Linked DNA regions of Homo sapiens: region 2 is linked to region 1. The links come from fine-mapping of genetic effects on gene expression. Tissue or cell type: monocytes. Region 1 holds a variant in brackets; the other region holds the start of a gene. All regions are shown on one strand. Distances are from middle to middle. Region 1 overlaps VPS50 (VPS50 subunit of EARP/GARPII complex). Region 2 holds the start of VPS50 (VPS50 subunit of EARP/GARPII complex).

The links. PIP is the estimated chance that this variant, and not a neighbour inherited with it, causes the effect.
Region 2: VPS50 starts here. The variant in region 1 is the best candidate, but not a certain one, in a credible set for the expression of VPS50 in monocytes (TOPMed, PIP 0.51).

What each region holds. Positions count from the first base shown.
Region 1 is chr7:93,338,872-93,341,685 of GRCh38, reverse strand. VPS50 (VPS50 subunit of EARP/GARPII complex) reads right to left here. Exons shown (of 28, transcript NM_017667.4): 23 at 111-259. Among named protein-coding and RNA genes, the nearest start is that of VPS50, 110 kb to the right of the region's middle. The variant G/A (reference allele first, on the strand shown) is at 1,282.
Region 2 is chr7:93,231,169-93,233,982 of GRCh38, reverse strand. VPS50 (VPS50 subunit of EARP/GARPII complex) reads right to left here and starts at 1,617. Exons shown (of 28, transcript NM_017667.4): 1 at 1,483-1,617. The coding sequence starts at 1,515. It also overlaps a transcript of HEPACAM2 not described here. RefSeq lists enhancers at 1,097-1,156, 1,397-1,446, 1,537-1,706, 1,847-1,916.

The DNA.
Region 1 (2,814 bases):
ATTTAGAAGTGGTAGATGTATGCAGCTAACTAGAAGTCTAATTAAACAATGCTTCTTTTATAAAGTTTCTTAAATATTTAATGGCAACGCAACTGTTTTGAACAACTTACAAGGATTCCGTGGCTACCACTCTTTCTGCCAACCCATACAGCGTATCCCCAGATGTCAAAACCACTAGGTGACTGAGGTGTGGACTTGGCACCTTCTCCTTTCTTTCTTCTGCTGCTGTGAGTGTGGCAGTAGGATCAGCTGAAACTTCCTGAAAATACAATAGATATACAACCTGGAATAACAAATCTAACAGTAATAAACCACGTGATTTTGACAAAATTAGAATTAAAATTAAAATACTCTTGGGGCACACGTTAATTACATTTAGGTTCAGTTCTTTTTATCCTGCTTTCATGTTTGTAACTATTGGAACCTTCTTTTTAATCCTAAATGAGAATGAGCCTACATAATATCATCCAACTCTACATGCTACCATCTGTACATGACCTAAAGTCTGTCAACACAAGGACTCTTTATGAATTGACAGATGTTTCACAGTGACAACAGTGAGATGGCCCTCAAGAACTTGTAAATGAGAGAAATATGATTACCCCTTGAGAACCATGCTGATAAAATCCAAAATTATTTTTTGATTAACCATCTCACACCCAAATTTTAATGAAGGTTACCCTGGTATATAATCTCAAGAAGGCAGGACTAGAATGAAGTTATAAACTAGAACAGAGCCAACTGTATTGTATATGTCTGGGGACAGACTGCTGATAAGAAGGAAGATGGTCAATGTGAACAAAGGAAAGGGATACCCAGGAAGCAGGGTGTGCCAGGCTCTTCAGCACCATCCAGGAGAGAACCACTGATTCAGTTACACAGCCATGTAGTCAACAGGAGTGATGCAGTCTAATTTGTGGTCGGGAAAACTCATCGGACTTCAAATTTCTCAGTTTTACTTTCATCTGATGATATACTCATTAGAAATCTTCTCATTACTAATTTACCTTTCTAGGTATTCTGATGCCAGGCAACGAATGCCTTGGATATGAGTTTATGTACATTCTTGGACTTCATATAAACATATCCTATGTTATAAACAAACAGGTTGGCAAAGGAAGAGTTTCAAAGATACACTTACTCAACTTCTCAATACATAGCAAGGGACTCATTTTTTACTAAGCTCTTAGCAAACAGTTAAAAAAACAAAAACACATTTCAACTCCCAGGCACACTGGCCACCTTTTTTTGCCAGGAGGATGGGAATATCTTGAGATCATG[G/A]GTAAAGATGCACAAGGCTGGCTACTCGGAGTAGCTGACAGAGTACCAGAAGACTGCCAGCTCAAGAGTTACCAATCACTCCAAATATTTCAATATTTAACTTAATATAAACTTATTTTGGTGACTAAGTTTCCCTTTGTACAGCAAACATGAAAGAAGGCTGTTTAGAATACTGGCATCATCATAACAGTTATTTGAATAGTTGCTGCATTACACCTCAGAGAAAGAGACTTTTAATTATTGTTTTCTGGGGCACGAAGGAGAGAGGTCAAGGTAGTGACACTGCAGGAATCTTAACATCACTGATGACAGTATAATCCAGGGTCACTTCACTGTGAAGGCCATTAAGAACTTTTATAACCAAATATATTTCTAATAACAATGAGCTTGAATTACAAATGGTCATTATACTTTTAGTTTAACTATAGAGTTTTACAGTACTGACATGGCAATGAATTCCATTCATTACATTTTTTAAAAAATTCCATAAGAGAAATTTACAAAAAGAAAAAAAATAGAATAAAAGCTATGTAAGTTAAGCAATAGCTCATAGTACAAAAATGCTATTATCTTTTTTAAAGTTAATCTGAATACAAGTTAACCCCTGCCCCCACTCAAAGTTTTAAAATGTTGATTGAATCATAGAATGACAGAGTTAGAAGAGATGCTAAACATTATATAATACAACCCCTGCAGTTTATGTACTACTTTCAGTATGGAAAACACTCCATGGTTATCTCTATTATGGAGTTTAAAGGTGAGAACATATGAGTAGGCAGATAGCAAAACTAAATGTTTAAATGCAAATAAAATAGCTTTAAAAAACCCTCAAAGAAAATTTAGCACAAAAATTGGATGTAAACGCATCTAATAGTGTACAAAATATAAAGCTAGATTACTTTTTACAGCAACTTGATAGTAACAAATCTCCAATTATTTTCCATATGAATAAATGAGACATCAAATGCATACATATAATTTACTCCTATAAATTTAGCAAAATGCAAATAAAAATTATAAAACTTTTCAAGTTAGAAAGTGGTTTAATTCTTTAGTTCTGTTTTTTTTTTTTTTATTTCCTATCTTCTCCTAAAGACAGTGTCTCTTTTCAATCTCTAATTACTCAATTAGCATTTAAAAGTTAGTTGGGGAATAACTGTGCTTCCTCTAGGGAGAAGCAGGATCATGGATCCATGCAAGTTAATTAATGTCGTATCTCCATCATTCATTTCCCTCTAAAAAGGAAATAACCCTACTCCAGCAGAAAAAAAAAAGGAGAATAAAAATTCACAAAATTAAATACTGTTTGGCACCAATTGGTTGTCTATGCTATTTAATTCTGGTAGTTATTGATAAGAAACAAGTAAGGAACCTTACAGTCATTCATGACTCCCCTTCTTCCTCACCTTCCACATCCAATCAATCACTAAAACATGCCTAAACAGACACCTCTCTTGTTTGTTCCTTCCGGATGTTACTATTTAAACAGGTCACAGGCTCCTTAGCAGTCTTGACTGGACTATTCTAAAAGCC
Region 2 (2,814 bases), 110 kb after region 1:
TTCCTGCTTTCCCACCATCAACATAGCCAATGTAACTAACGGTCTCTGCGTTCAAGCACTTCCTTGATAATGCCCAGGAACTCCGTTAACGCCTTAAACTCTTTAACTTCATTATATCATGTAAACACCACTATCAGGCTAACTCCATAAGGCACACATTATTCCTATTTTAAAGATGTGGAAATAGATGCTTAAAAACGTTATGTAACTTGCCGAAAGTCACACAGCTGCCACAGGATACAGCAGGACCCAAACTCATCGTCAAGTAAGAAGTAGTAGGACGCACAACACCAGTACTCAACACATGTGAGGAATTAACAAATGTTACTAGCCACTTACTTAAATATTTTTATTATTCACAGAACATTTTGATTATATTTTCATAACATTAACAAAATGCTCTGACATAACTAAAATAATCATGTAAGGGTCATTTGTGCATTGTGCAAGAGAAATACACAATTTGTATCCTGTTTATATATCTCTCAAATTGTGAATTCTCAAATAAGAATGTGGAATTTGAGTTATTTTTGTAATCAACAAGAAAAAAACTCACAAATATACCTTTCACTAAACGATTACCTTCCACATTCTCCAAACTTCTAAAAGCCATGTTGATTTAAAACTCTAATCTTAACTATCTTTCATATTAAAATAATAAAATGACCAATTCTAGTGAAATATTAAAGCTGAAGTAAATAAAGGCAGCTAAAACAAAGTCATAATCAATAAGTACATAAAAGAAAATTTCTGCACTTCTTAAATGAAGCTGAGGCATTATTACGAGGTCCCTAACATTTATGAGACAGGTTACAAAATAGCCAAAGCTCTTATTCATGAATTTCCATTCTGGGGAAAAAAAAGAAAAGATCAGTATTTTGCCATGACAAAAATAAATTTTTTAAAGCAGAATTTCACAAAGAGTTTTCACATATATTAGCTTATCGATGACCCTCATAACAGAACTGTGAAGTAAAATGAACAAAAATAATTATTTTCACATCCAGAAACGTAAGCTACAAAGTTTGGGGACTTGCCCAAAATCCAAAAGCTACTAATTCTGTCTTCAAATCATCCGTTTTCAGTCTTTCCAGGTCACCTCTACTGCACAGACCACACCACCCTACCCAGGCTATCAGCTCGCATATGACAGACAGCCTGGATGCGGAAGACCTTGCAAGGAAGCTCGGGCTGTTCTGGAAAGACGGCAAAAAGAGGAGGAGGGGAGACAAAGATACCCTGATTCCTTCAATGACTTATTTTTAAACGAATATTTCTGGGAGGCTGGTACCCGCTGGAGCAGTGCTCCAACCCAGGCGGCCCAGGTGAGTTTTCTAGGGTATGCCCCGGCTTCCCAGTCCCCCTGACACCTGCCACCACCCATAACTTAGATCCCCGCCCGCCACTGGTTGGGGACAGAACATCTCGGCTCCTCTCACTTCCGAGATGAAGGAAGCCTTTGCTTCAGCCGCCGCGACTTACCTGTCGGGTCATGAGAGATTTGATTTTTTGCATATCGAAATCCTGAGGAGGGTACCCTGCCTCAAAGAGCTAACAAATCACACCGAGCCACTACACAGCTGGCCCTGACACTAGGAAGCCATAGTGGGTGGTCACGTGGAGGAGCCGACCCAGGGTATCCTGTCTTTCCCTGGGCCTGCTGGGAACTGTAGTCTTCTGGACGCCGGCGGTAGCAACGATGAACTAAAGTGGCCAACCCAGGGACTACATCTCCCAGCAAGCAAAAGAGCGGGTGCTTCAGTTAAGCCGGTAAATATTACTGCTCAGAGCGACCACTGCGATCGCCGGTCTTACAAAGGTGCTTGCACTAGGCAGTAGCTACTCTTCGGCGAGACGGAAACCTAAGTCACAGGTGACTAGGCGTTGAGCGAAAGATCAAACTCAGAGGAGACAATATATAAGCCAGATTGACGCGATGTCCCCTAGGAGTGTGAGGGAGGAAACCTCACCTGGTCTAGAGGGGCGGGGTGGGAGAACGAGAGACTGACGCGAAGGAGAAGGAACTCAAGAAAGGGCTGTCACTGAGGGGTAACCTGAGAACTCGAGACTACCCCGGGCGCGCTGGGTTTGGCCTGAGGAAAGGTGTGCTCTAGGTTGCCCAATAGGCGGCCCTCCAGGTTTAGGGCTGTTCTACCTCAGTCTTGGTATCCCCTGCAAAAGCTCTAAAATCGAAGGATTTTGACGCCCGCCTATTATTTTACCTCCGTACTCTAAAGCAGTGATGACGGGAAATACGACAATAACGAGTATACCTGTCACTTTAAAGTCCTCTTTTCAACTTTTGGCAGTTTAGTTAAATTGGGGAAAGGAACAGAAGTGTCTTTGGGGACACAATTTTAAAAGGACTTTACAATTATGAGAATATGAGAAGAAGAAGAAAAAGCAGCCCTAAAGCTAACAATGATAGCTAACACTTATCGAAAGCCGAGTACCTGTCAGGAACTGCTAATAGCTTTAAATATATGATTTCATTTATCCACACAAGAATCCTGTGGGTTCCCATTTTAAAGATGACGAAGCAGGTATGGCGAAATTAAGGAACTTGCCTAAGATTACTGCAGATGTGCAAGTAGAAACTGAAGGATTAATCGGTCATCAGATGTGTTAAGATTTTCATGTATTGTGCTGAAGAAAGTTCTAAAGCATGGCACCAATTTTTTTAAGTTTATTTTATTATAATGTTAACTTCTAAAAGTATGACACAGACCCATAATTTCAAAAATATTTCTTAGAATAAAAAAAGTTCAAGTGTGTCAACGTAATAAAAAATACTAGGTAAACAATAGTATGGGT